2 linked regions of the Homo sapiens genome follow. The protein of the gene in region 1 interacts with the protein of each later gene in a pairwise test. Each region holds a gene or a part of one and is shown in the gene's direction. Other genes may lie near its edges.

The links.
Region 2: the proteins of RFC2 (region 1) and RFC1 interact in binary tests that used the Homo sapiens proteins (3 or more experiments, as listed by UniProt).

Annotation. Positions count from the first base shown.
Region 1 is NC_000007.14:74,231,002-74,237,464, reverse strand, and holds the end of RFC2 (replication factor C subunit 2), read left to right. Parts: intron 1-22; coding exon 23-103; exon of another isoform or gene 104-109; intron 110-1,819; coding exon 1,820-1,933; intron 1,934-5,248; coding exon 5,249-5,359; 3' UTR 5,360-5,963; downstream 5,964-6,463.
Region 2 is NC_000004.12:39,286,937-39,293,408, reverse strand, and holds the end of RFC1 (replication factor C subunit 1), read left to right. Parts: intron 1-1,556; coding exon 1,557-1,770; intron 1,771-3,369; coding exon 3,370-3,561; intron 3,562-4,564; coding exon 4,565-4,648; 3' UTR 4,649-5,953; downstream 5,954-6,472. UniProt on the Homo sapiens protein: Subunit of the replication factor C (RFC) complex which acts during elongation of primed DNA templates by DNA polymerases delta and epsilon, and is necessary for ATP-dependent loading of proliferating cell nuclear antigen (PCNA) onto primed DNA.

The DNA of each region.
Region 1 (6,463 bases):
CCTTTCCTTTCCCTTTGGCCAGGTCTGTGACGAGCCCCACCCACTGCTGGTAAAGGAGATGATCCAGCACTGTGTGAATGCCAACATTGACGAAGCCTACAAGGTTGGCCTCCTTCCCCCCGTCCTGGCAGAGGAACCGCTCACTTCTTGGGCAGAGGAGAGCGGGAGCCCTTCTGGTACCAGGGACATTATACACATCACTCCATTCATTCTTGAAATCTTACTTGGGAGACTGAGGCAGGAGGATTTGTTGAGCCTTGGAGGTCAAGGCTGCAGTGAGCTGTGATTGCGCCACTGTACCCCAGCCTGGGTGATGGTGAGACCCTGTCTCAGGAAAAAAAAAAAATTATTAATATCATGCTATGTGTTAATCTGTCTAGGAACTGGAAAAAAAAAATTATGCTAGGAGTTGGGTGCACTTTACTGATGAGAAAACTGATTCAGAGGCTGAATTCCTTGTCCTAAATCACTGTGTTTGTTTATTTATTTATTTATTTATTTATGTAGAAACAGGGTCTTACTCTGTTGCCCAGGCCGGAATGCACTGGCGCGGTCACAGCTCACTGTAGCCTCTACCTCTCAGGCTCAGGCGATCCTCCCACCTCAGCCTCCCAAGTAGCTGGGACTACAGGCACATGTCACTATGCCCAGCCCTAAGTCATGGTTTAAAAGCAGTAGAACTAGAATTCAAAATGGTGTTTTTCTCCTGTAATTATATCCTCTGCAGGAGAAATTTGTCAGCCAAAGTCAGGAGGAAAGACCAGCCTAGCTCCTTCTCCAGGGAAGCCATCTTCTCTCCAGTTAAGGGGAAGTGTCCCCATCCATTCTCATAGGCACAGGCATTCTGGGATCCAGCAGCCCCCAGCTAGCCAGGAGAGGAGGGAGCAGGAAGATTCTAGCCTCACAATGGGACTGAGTGCTGTGAGCAGATTCCAGCAGATGTGGCTGGGGTTCAGGCGACCTCAAGCCACATGGGTGTGGTGTGGTTGGTGTGGTTCAAGGTCATTGATCCAGTCATGGTTTCCCTCTGCCTACCCCCTAACAAACTAGGTTGGAAGTTGACTGGGTTTAGGGCATAGTTCCACCCAATGTGAAACCGGAGTGCAAGGCGGGGAGACTGAGCAGAGACCCAGGCCCAGGGTCCCTGAGTAGACCTGAAGAAAGCCTTCAGATTTGTGGGCACAGAGCTTCTCTGCCTCCTGAATTCACCCCAAGATGCCAAAACAAAGGCAAAAAGGCCTGCCTCCAGACGCTGCAGCCTGGGTGGGGCAGGGTGGGTGGGAAGCAGGAGGCTGGGATTACCCAGTCAGGGTGTGCTCCAGGCTCGTCCTGCAGAGGTTGCATTGGGACTGCAGCTGGATGAAGCTAGCAGATGAATGGTCTGCTTTTTCCACTTTGCTATACCTAGTCATCAGATTAATAAAGCATTTTAAGAGCTCCGGATCAAGAGATTACATGGGTGTGGTAGTAGACCATTTTGCAACACAGCTTAACACATTTGCGATAGGCTGGGCTCAGTGGCTCATGCCTGTAATCCCAGCACTTTTGGAGGTCGAGGCAGGAGGATTGCTTGAGGCCGGGAACTTGGGACCAGCCTGGGCAATATAGCAAGACTCTTATCTTTATATTACTGAAAAAAAAATATTTAAGCAAAACAACAATACATTTGCAATGTTATCTCTCTATCTGCCATGAAAATCAGTTAAGGTACCCCCATGTGACCTGAAGGGTGGGCCCCACCAGCTGTGGTGAGTCTCAAAATCACATGTCTTCTTACAGTTTAAAGTGGTAAGCAGCCTTTTCTGTCTCCTTTGTCTAGATTCTTGCTCACTTGTGGCATCTGGGCTACTCACCAGAAGATATCATTGGCAACATCTTTCGAGTGTGTAAAACTTTCCAAATGGCAGAATACCTGAAACTGGAGTTTATCAAGGTCGGTGAGAATGTAGAAATGCCTCTGTCCTCAAGAATGTGGCCCATAGTGGCCGGGTGCTGTGGGCCACACCTGTAATCCCAGCACTTTGGGAGGCCGAGGTGGGCAGATCACCTGAGGTCAGGAGTTCGAGACCAGCCTGGCCAACGTAGTGAAAGCCTCTGTCTACTAAAAATACAAAAATTAGCTGGGCATGGCTGGGCGTGGTGGCTCATGCCTGTAATCCCAGCACTTTGGGAGGCCGAGGTGGGCGGATCACCTGAGGTCAGGAGTTTGAGACCAGCCTGGCCAACATGGCAAAGCCCCATCTCTACTAAAAATACAAAACTTAGCTGGGTGTGGTGGCAAGCGCCTATAATCCCAGCTACTTGGGAGGCTGAGGGAGGAGGATCGCTTGAACCTGGGAGGTGGAGGTTGCAGTGAGCCAAGATCGCACCACTGCACTCCAGCCTGGGCAGCAGAGCGAGACTGTCTCAAAACAAAAAAAAAAGACTGTGGGCCCTGGCTTCGCTTTCTCTGCTCACAGGCCTGGCATCTAGAAGGTGCTCAGTGTTTCCCAACTGCAGTGGGAGGGAGGCTGTGTCTTAGTTCCTTTGAGTTACTATAAAGGAATACCAGAGACTGGGTAATGTAGAAAGAAAAGAGGTTGATTTGGCTCACAGTTCTGCAGGCTGTACATGTAGCATGATGCCAGCATCTGCTTCTAGGGAGGGGTTCAGGCTGCTTCTGCTCATGTTGGAAGGGGAAGTGGGAGCCTGTGCATGCAGAGACCACCTGTTGAGAACGGAGGGAGGTGCCAGGCTCATTTGAACAGCCAGCTCTCCAGGGACCTAATTGATCCAGAACTCACTCACTACCTTGGGGTGGGCACCAAGCCATTCACGTGGGATCTTCCTCATGACCCAAACATCCCCACATTGGGGACCAAATTCCAAATGAGATTGGAAGGGGACAGACGTCCAAACTAGATCAACGTGGCTGATTGTCCTGAGGACCAAGTTTGTTTCACACAGTTCTGATTTTCTTCATTCAAGGCTCTCTTGTGTATTGACTGATTGATTGATTTTTCAAGGTTAGATTAATTGAGGTTTAATTTACATAGAGTAAAATTCAGCCTGTTAGGTACAGGACAAACGCACTCAGTCATGCAAACACTATCACCATCAGGATGCAGAATCTGTCATCCCAGAACAACTCATGTGTCCCTTTGAAGCCAGCCCCCTCCCCGACTACCACTTGGAAACTACCGATGTAGTTTCTGTTTCATGGGATACAGTTTTCCAGAATATCATATAAATGGGATCATGTAGAACTTAGCCTTGTGAGTTTGGCTTCTTTCTTTCACTGTAGCAGAAATGCCTTTCAGATGTGTCCACGCTGGTACTTCTATCCATGAGTCAGTCCGTGTTATCACTGAGAAGTAATCCATCCTGTGCGTGTACCACAGTTTGCTTATCTGTCCATCAGCTGGAGGACATTTGGGTTTACAGATTGTGGTGACTGTGAATAAAGCCAGTGTAAACATTTGCATATATGGATTAGTGTGAATGCAAATGTTAAGTTTTTCTTTTTCCCAAGTAAGTTCCCAGGGGTGAAATTGCCTGGGAAAATGATAAGTGTATGTTTTACTCGATAAGGAACTGCCAAACGGTTTTCCGAAGTGGCTGCAGCACGTGCATTCCCACCAGCATTCCGGAGGATCCTCAACCTAGCCACCACATGGAGTGCTCAGTTTGGTTTTTAAGCCATTCTAATAGGTGTGTAATGACCGGATGCAGTGGCTTACACCTGTAATCCCAGCTACTCGGGCGGCTGAGGGAGGAGGATCGCTTGAACCCAGGAGGTGGAGGTTGCAGTGAGCTGAGATCACACCCCTGCACTACAGCTTGGGCGACAAGAGTGAGACTCCATCTTAAAAAAAAAAAAAAAAAAAAAACCAATAACAACAACAACAAAATAACCTAATAGGCATGTGATGAGATCTCATTGTGCCTTTAATTTGCATTTCCCTAATTACTATGCTGAACATTTAATCATGTGCTCGTTTGCCATCCAGAATCTTCTTTGATGAAACATCTGTTCATATATACCCATTTTTTAAAATTTTTACATTTTTTATTTTAATTGTACTGTATTTTTTGTTTAGAGATCATGTTAAGACCGGCCAATTTTTATATTTTTGGTGGAGACGGGGTGTCCCCGTGTTGCCAAGGCTGGTCTTGAACTCCCGGGCTCAAGTGATCCTCCCGCCTCGGCCTCCCAAAGTGCTAGAATTACAGGTGTGAGCCACTGCGCCTGGCCTACCTTTTTTATGTTTTTGAGAGACAGGGTCTTGCTCTGTCACCCAGGCTGGAGTGCAGTGGTGCGATCATAGTTCACTGCAGCCTCAACCTTCCATGCTCAAGCAATCCTCCCACCTCAGGCTCCCGAGTAGCTGGGACTGCAGGCATGTGCCACTACACTTGGGTCATTTTTATTTTCTTTTTTTCGTAGAGTTTGGGTGTTGCTATGTTGCCCAGGCCCAACTCTGGGCAAGTGATCCTCCTGCCTCAGCCTCCCAGAATGCTGGGATTACAGGTGTGAGCTACTGCTCCAGGTCTAAATCTACCCATTTTTTAATTGGGTTGTTTGATTTTTATTACTGAATTTATTTACTTATTTATTTTTGAGATGGAGTCTTGCTCTGTTGCCCAGGCTGGAGTGCAGTGGCACTATCTCAGCTCACTGCAACCTTCGCCTCCCAGGTTTAAGTGATTCTCCTGCCTCAGCCTCCCGAGTAGCTGGGATTACAGGCGTGCGCCACCATACCTGGCTAATTTTTGTATTTTTAGTAGAGATGGGGTTTTACCATGTTGGTCAGGCTGATCTCGAACTCCTGGGCTCGTGATCCACCTGCCTTGACCTCCCAAAGTACTGGGATTACAGGCATGAGCCACCACGCCTGGACTTTATTACTGAATTTTTGAGAATTCTTTATACAGTCTGGATGCAAGTTCTTTATCAGATATATAAATATTTTCCTCTAGCCTGGCTTTCCGTGCCACCACCCCGCCCCCCCTCGCCCCACCCATTTTCTTAACAGTTTCTTTGAAAGAACTATCAGCATCCTTTTAAGAAATAAATAGAACTTTAGGTAAACATAATCCATTGCATCTTAGCATTCATTTTCCGGCTGGGGTTGGAATTCCTCATGCTGATTTTGAAAAAACCATTAGTTCAGTTTGTTTCTGTTTTTATTTTTATTTTTTTCAGTTCAGATTTTAAAAAAGAACTCCCCCACTTATTAACCAGATTTGAATTTGGTTTGTTTTTCAGGAAATTGGATACACTCACATGAAAATAGCGGAAGGAGTGAACTCTCTTTTGCAGATGGCAGGCCTCCTGGCAAGGCTGTGTCAGAAGACAATGGCCCCGGTGGCCAGTTAGAGCAGAGACTTCACTGACTGACTTACAGGTGCCCTATTCTGAGGTACAGGAGCCGCGGCTTTCTGATGGGGGAAAATGCCGCCTTAGGCTGGAGCCAACATGACTGTCCTTTAAACTCCAGTGGCTGGCCAGGCACGGTAGCTCACGCCTGTAATCCCAACACTTTGGGAGGCCGAGGCAGGTGGATCACCTGAGGTCAGAAGTTCAAGACCAGCCTGGCCAACATGGGGAAACCCTGTCTTTACTAAAAATATAAAAATTAGCTGGGTGTGGTGGCGGGCACCTGTAATCCCAGCTACTCGGGAGGCTGTGGCAGGAGAATCGCTTGAACCCAGGAGGTGGAGGTTGCAGTGAGCCAAGATCACACCATTGCACTCCAGCCTGGGCGACAGAGTCTCCATCTGGGGAAAAAAATTAAATAAATAAACTCCCGTGACTTGCATGTTTGCTTCTGGGACGTCTGTGCCCCGCAAGTGTTTGAGTTTGGCCTCCACCCCATTGATGCGGTGACGGGGCGGAAAGGCGCAGAGAAGCTGAGGGCGGTCTCTGATCTGTGTGTGGGTTGACATTTTAGCTAATAAAGCCTTGCAGTGTTTGTTGGCAATAAGGTGACCATGTGAAGCCTCGAGAAAAACCAGCTTCCTGTCTCTACGGGCCTTGGCAGCCTACAAGTAGAAAAGGCGATTAGATAGTAGACCCACAAGCTCATCTCGGTTCTTCTAGAAGCCTGAAGGCGCCACTTCCCCAGGGCGAGGGCAGGGTTTGCTGTCTTTCCTATTTAGACTGATTTCTCAGAATGGCCAGGTGGCGAGCCTTTCAGAGAGGGCGGCAGAGTGGAGAGATGCAGCCCAGCCCTCAGGAAAACACCGTGATGCTCTTCCTGTGTTCTAGACCATACTCTTTGCGCTTGCTTTAGAATTCCCCAAAGAATTTCGTACTAATTTGTAGAATTGCCTTTTTTTTTTTTTTGGTAAGATACTATTTTTTTCCCTTTTTGTTTTGTTTTGATTTTTGAGATTGGGTCTCACTCTGTCGCCCAGGCTAGAGTGTAGTGGGCCAATCTTGGCTCACTGCAGCCTCAACCTCTTGGGCTCAAGTGATCCT
Region 2 (6,472 bases), on another chromosome or scaffold:
ACAAAGAAAACACTTTTAGGGGAATTACAGATTCCTGAGGTTAAGAACCCTTGGTTTAGGTGCACTAAATGGCATCTTTGACTTTTCTATGAGTCTATTAGAAGATGATGATACTGTAAAACATTGTAGAACAGTTTTGGAAATGGTTTCATGATTTCTGGGGGTACTGTGGCTTAGGGACTCACACTGCTTCCTTTAAGTACTAGCGTGCTTAATTATGGAAGACAATCTAGAGGAAATGGATGAAATTAAACTAGGAGAGTTTTAAAAACTCTTTGTCTAGGTAATAGTTGCGAGGGTGAGTCTAGATTTCTGATCAGGAAAAAAGCTGTGGCTTCTTATGGTTCACACATTCAGTTCCTTGAAGGCAGGAGCAGGACCCATAGACAATTTGTAAAGAATCATTTCTTTTTGCTTCTGATGCTGGTTCTGATAACAACAACTTTTGAAGTTTTACGTATACAGGCTGGGTGCGGTGGCTCACGTCTGTAATCCCACCACTTTGGGAGGCCAAGGCGGGTGGATCACCTGTTAGGAGTTTGAGACCAGCCTGGGCAAGATGGTGAAACCCTGTCTCTACTAAAAATACAAAAAAAAAAATTAGCCGGGTGTGGTGGCGGGTGCCTGTAATCCCAGCTACTTGGGAGGCTAAGTCAGGAGAACCTCCTGAACCCGGGAGGTGGAGGTTGCAGTGAGCCAAGACTGCACCACTGCACACCAGCCTGGGCAACAAGAGTGAGGCTTCGTCTTTAAATAAATAAATAAATAAATAAATAAATAAATAAATAAATAATGTATACATATAAATGCCTGGTTTGAAGATAGAGGCAGCTGGGTTGGAAAGATTTAGGATGGTGGCATTTGAAATATTGTTTTGTTCAGTTGCTTTCTGTCTTTAAGAAGTGACAACATTTAAGAGAGAAAGAAAGAGTCATTTTATGATAACATTCGAGTTCTCAGCAGACCAGAGACTGTTTCCCTAAACCTTCCTCTGGCCACTGTGGATCACTTTTTGATTTTGTGGGAACACTCTGTAATTTTCTTAGATTTGGAGAAAAGCCGGCTCTAGAACTGACGATTTCAGAGTAACAGTATTAGGAAATGTGAGGGAAGCATTCATATATGATTTTGTGTGTTATAATCAGGGACCAAAAGGTGTTATACACATTCACACACTTGAGATAGGGAATTTCATTGCCTTATACTGATGCTTTTAATATTTTGGAACTTGGAACGAGTCATATTTATGAACACAAAGAAACATTCTGTTGCCTGGGCCTTAAGAGTAGGGTGGAAGTAGAATCCACGTATGTTTTTCAGTCACTGATGTAGGTAAGTAGAAAATTTCCTTTGGGCACATTGATGTGTACCCATTACCCTCATGCTGTGGTGCTGGGCTTTCTAAACTACACCAGCTGGCTGTCAAATAGTAGGCATTCCATTCAGCATTATTGAAATTGGATTGAACTCTGCCTGATTAACTCAGTGCTGTTATGCACAGTATGACTTGAGTTGATACTTTGCTGTTGACTATGTCTCTTTTGTTGTGGTTTCAGAACTTACTCCAGCAAAAGGACTGTAAACATGGATTATCTGTCGCTTCTAAGGGATGCACTTGTACAGCCCTTGACCTCACAAGGAGTAGACGGAGTACAGGATGTTGTTGCACTTATGGACACATATTATTTGATGAAAGAAGACTTTGAGAATATCATGGAAATCAGCAGCTGGGGTGGCAAACCTAGTCCCTTTTCAAAGCTGGATCCCAAGGTAAATCATGTCACTCACTGGTTCTTCGTCACTTTCTATTACCAGGTTTGTACTGACAATACTTCGGAGGTGTTTTAGATGCTTTAAGATTTACTTCTTTTTCCCCTCAAATGCTTGTTGCTTCTTATGGCCTATATTTTCCAAAGATACTATTTGAATGCAGTATTAAGAGTAGACTTCTGGGCTTGACTTTACAATTTGTATTTTTATCTTTGCTTTATGCTCAGTGGAAAAGCAAGAAGTGAAATTTGAGGAGCAAATATAAATATATTCTTTATAAAGGATGAGTGGATGAGTCTAGGGAATTAAAAGTTGAGCGGTGAGCTCTGGTGGTAATGGGTTGTAAAAATAAAATATGTTTATTGGCTGAGGATTTGTACAAATTTTCTTTTTCTTAGTCTACCTAATCTGTGGATTCAGTATTTATTCCAGTTGGATAATCTTCTCTGTAATAATGTATCCCCACTTTTCTTATAATGAGACGAAAAAAACTAAAGTGATACATCATGAATATGTAACATCCAATACCCAACTCTTGCACCTGTGTAATGAATGCGTTTTAGAAGACATATTCTCTGTAGTTTGCCCTCCCCAGAATTTTGACCCGACTTTATGGTTATCAGTAAATTCTCACAGCAGACATCCATTGTTAGAATTCATGGACTAATTCAGGAATTATGTTTAGAAGCTTGAAGGTAAGACTTTCAAGTTACTTAGTATTTTGAAGTAACTACTCTTATTATGGAAAAGGTATCTAGTGTTTTGTGGAAATTAAAGGCCAACTTATATCTTGTGATGAGCTCCCCCAACCTTTTTTTTTTTTTTTGAGACAGTCTAGCTCTGTTGCCCAGGCTGAAGGGCAGTGGTGCGATCTCGGCTCACTGCAACCTCTGCCTCCCGGGTTCAAGCCATTCTCATGCCTCAGCCTCCCAAGTAGCTGGGATTACAGGTGCACTCCATCACGCCTGGCTAAGTTTTGTATTTTTAGTAGAAATGGGGTTTCCCTATGTTGGCCAGGCTGGTCTCAAACTCCTGGCCTCATGTGAACTGCCTGCTTTGGCCTCCCAAAGTGCTGGGATTACAGGCGTGAGCCACCACACCCAGCCGAGCCCCTTTTTGATTTACTGATTCACTGATTAACTTTGCTTACTACTTTGTAGAAATGTGGAGAATGCTGAATAGGTAAACATGATGACTTGAAGTGACCTTTTGTTTGTTTGTTTGCCTAAAGTTCCCAAATATATATATACGTATTTTTTTTTTTTTTAGACAGAATCTCACTCTGTTACCCAGCCTGGAGTGCAGTGGCGCAATCTCAGCTCACTGCAACCTCCACCTCCTGGGTTCAAGATTCTCATGGAGAAGCATGAGCCACTGTGCCCCACCTTCAGTCTTTTTTGTCATGGGCTCTATTAAGAATGTTATGAAAAATATGGAACTTATCCACAGAAAAATGCACGTACTTAGATTTACATGTATATACATAAATACTTTGCAAACAGTTGCAGGGGGCTCCCAGGGTCTCTTTAGGCTTACAGAGTTTAAAAGAATTGTTTGGGACTTAGATTTTTAAAAACTCCATCTACTCCTTTCATATAGGTGAAAGCAGCCTTCACAAGAGCTTACAATAAGGAAGCCCACCTTACTCCATACTCACTTCAAGCTATAAAGGCATCTAGACACAGCACAAGCCCATCCCTGGATTCGGAATACAATGAAGAATTAAATGAAGATGACTCTCAATCTGATGAGAAAGACCAAGATGCTATAGAAACTGATGCCATGATCAAGGTAGTATTTTAAGCCACAGACAGGAGAACCTCAAAATAGATGATCTTTCCTTGCCTGGTGAATAATAGGGCCTTTTCAGCACATAGCAGAATAACTTGAAAATACTTCTTAAGTTTTTTTGTTCATCATGGTTGAGGGTGGAGAAGGTAGAGATTTCATTTTTATAAAGTTTCTTATGGTAGTCGAAGAGCCAAACAGCAAGAAAACAGGCCATGATATTGACGGCCATATGTTCTGTTAGAAAAAGTACCATTTTTATTTATCTAGCCATTGGTGTATGCTTTCAAGAAAAATGTTTGTAACAAAACAGTTTCTTCTGTTGCTTATGTTTTGCTATAGCCACTAAACTGCTTTGTAGAAGTTTCTTAGAGCAAAACATTCTTGTCTTTTGATGGGAAATATGAAAACCAATTGTGGTATCAGCCTGCTGTGTACAGCTGGCTGAGCCAAGGAACCTCATCTGATCCTCCTCTGTCCTTCGCTGGGTGTGGGTGCTTCTTGCCCTTCATTTCTGTTTTCTGTATGCAGGAGTAGGAATAGTGGCCTTCTTCACTGTGGCTCCCATGTCGACCCTAACAGGTGGTCTTCCTCTCTCCCTCTCTTCTGCTTTCACAAAATGACTGTTTACACCTCTAATCTGAAACTGAAAGAAGAGGAAATTCTTCATCTAAACATTACCCTATTTGTCAATTACCTCTTGCTTATTTTGTCTTTCCTAAGTATACCTCTGTTCTAAATCCAAGAAACTGTCTTACATGGGGAACGGATCCTAGTTCTAAATTCTAAACTAAAAGTTTTTACTGCCAGCTTTTAAAGGCTGTAAGTGGCGCAGTTGTTGCTGTAAGCGCTTCATGGGTTGCAGTAGTTCAAGATCTCGATGTTTGCAGCCTCTCTTCTTTTTTAATTAAGTTGCAGGTAAAGATTAGATTTGTTATAGAGATGAACTTATTTCATTTACTCATAAACACAGCTATTAACTATTTTGTTATCTTCCCCCTAACAGAAAAAGACAAAATCTTCAAAGCCTTCAAAACCAGAAAAAGATAAGGAGCCCAGAAAAGGAAAAGGAAAAAGTTCGAAGAAATGAAACCATTTTTCACTAGCGACAGCCACTTTTTACTCTCCCTCCTGACCAGTCCAGCTGGTCTAGAGAAAGCCTTGTTTTTTCCCAGAGCAACCATGTTTTAGCATAATGGGATGACCTGGTGTCCCATTATAAATAAAGGGTGGTATGGCTAGAAGGGTATGAGCAGTAGGCTTATGTACACCTCTTATAGAGGTTGATAGGACTGCTTGGGTCCTCCACTGTCCTCTGTCAATCTAGTTAGACGTGCTTCTGAATGACTGTAGAATTGGAACTAGAAACTACACCTGGGCTTTGGAGTCAGATTTTAGTTAACAATAATGAGCCTGGGAGCAGTAGTACTAAGGCGTCTTTTGTAGGCTTAAGAATTTATCCTAATGGCCTTTATAGGACCAATGCTGATTTTTTTTAAAGGCAGTTCCTATTATGTGGTGAAATTTTGTAAATAAATGATTATACAAAACAGTCACCACCTAGAACTGGGTATTCTTTGTACATTGTCAGATATCTTTCAAAGTATAAATTAGGAATAAAAATGTTCCACATGATATGTGTACAAATTCTTTTTAAGATTGTCATCTTGTACAGCAAAATATTATGTTGGTATATTACTTCCTTATTAATTTGCAAATGATTGGATTAAAAAAGCTCACTGTATTCCTTACTAACCTGTTGTGTGAAACATAACATTGGCAGTCGAGGAGTCAGAACTCGGATTCCCAGCCTCACTCCCTCTGTGTGTGTTGACCACGTCTCTGCTGTGAATAGGATTTCATGCAGTGGTCTGTTATGGGGCTTTGCAGCGTGGGGGGCTGCAGAAGATTCTCAGACATTCTTATCCTTCTGGAGTCTCAACCCATCAGGTTCAGACCAGTAGGAACCAGGCTGGGTCAGGCTCTTAATTTCACTATGGTGGGGGACAAAATGAACACTGGCTTTTGTTCACTTTGCCCCTGAGAGATCTAGTCCTGTCCTGTGATGGCTTCCACAAACCCTGTTGGAAGTTTGGGTTATTCCTATAACTGTATGTGTTGAGTGGCCGTGAGGCTATGGACCTAGCCTGGAATTTAGATGTCTAGCTATTTTTTAATCTTGTTGGTAAATGCTCAGAGGTCTGTGCTACCTCTGTGAGGTATATACTAAAATGAATGTAAAATAAGGATCGTATTCCCTGCTTTAAGGAACTGGTAGTCTTGTTTGGGTGATGAGACAAAGTTCTTGAGACATTTAAACTGTATTTACCAGTGTGAAAAATGTCATTTATGGAGATTAATTCATTATGGAAATAAAACATTGCCTAAGCCCTTGCCTGCTGAGTCACGACCCTGTCTTTGTTAAAGTCCATCTTGAAATTCTTATGCTTCAGGAAAGGTTTTCTCACCAGTAGGGTGAGGCTGGCTTTCCTATTCATGTTCTTCCATTTCTATGCCTTTTGGATATGCAAGTCACGTCTCCCTAGGTCTTCTGCAGCCCCCAGGAGAGAGACTTGAATCTCCATGCAGCCAGGATGCGGCATAGTGTCCTTCACTTGTTCATTATGATTTTGTTTGTAATTTTAAATGTTTTAAACCCAAGATTGGGATAATATGTGTGTAAAATTAATAGCATTTCTTTTAGAATTAGAAATTGTAAATATGCCCTTTATGAGGATGGCATAGGTCTGATTCCTCTTTGAAGCCCTCGTGACCATGAGGTGAATGAGTGAGATTCATGGTAGGAGGCAGTTGGTGGTTCTGCAGCAGTTTGGATGTGAATCTGAATGGTCTGTATTGGGGTTGAGTCTTCATTGGAGCCACCGATGATGTGGCCTTTTGGAGCCACTTGATG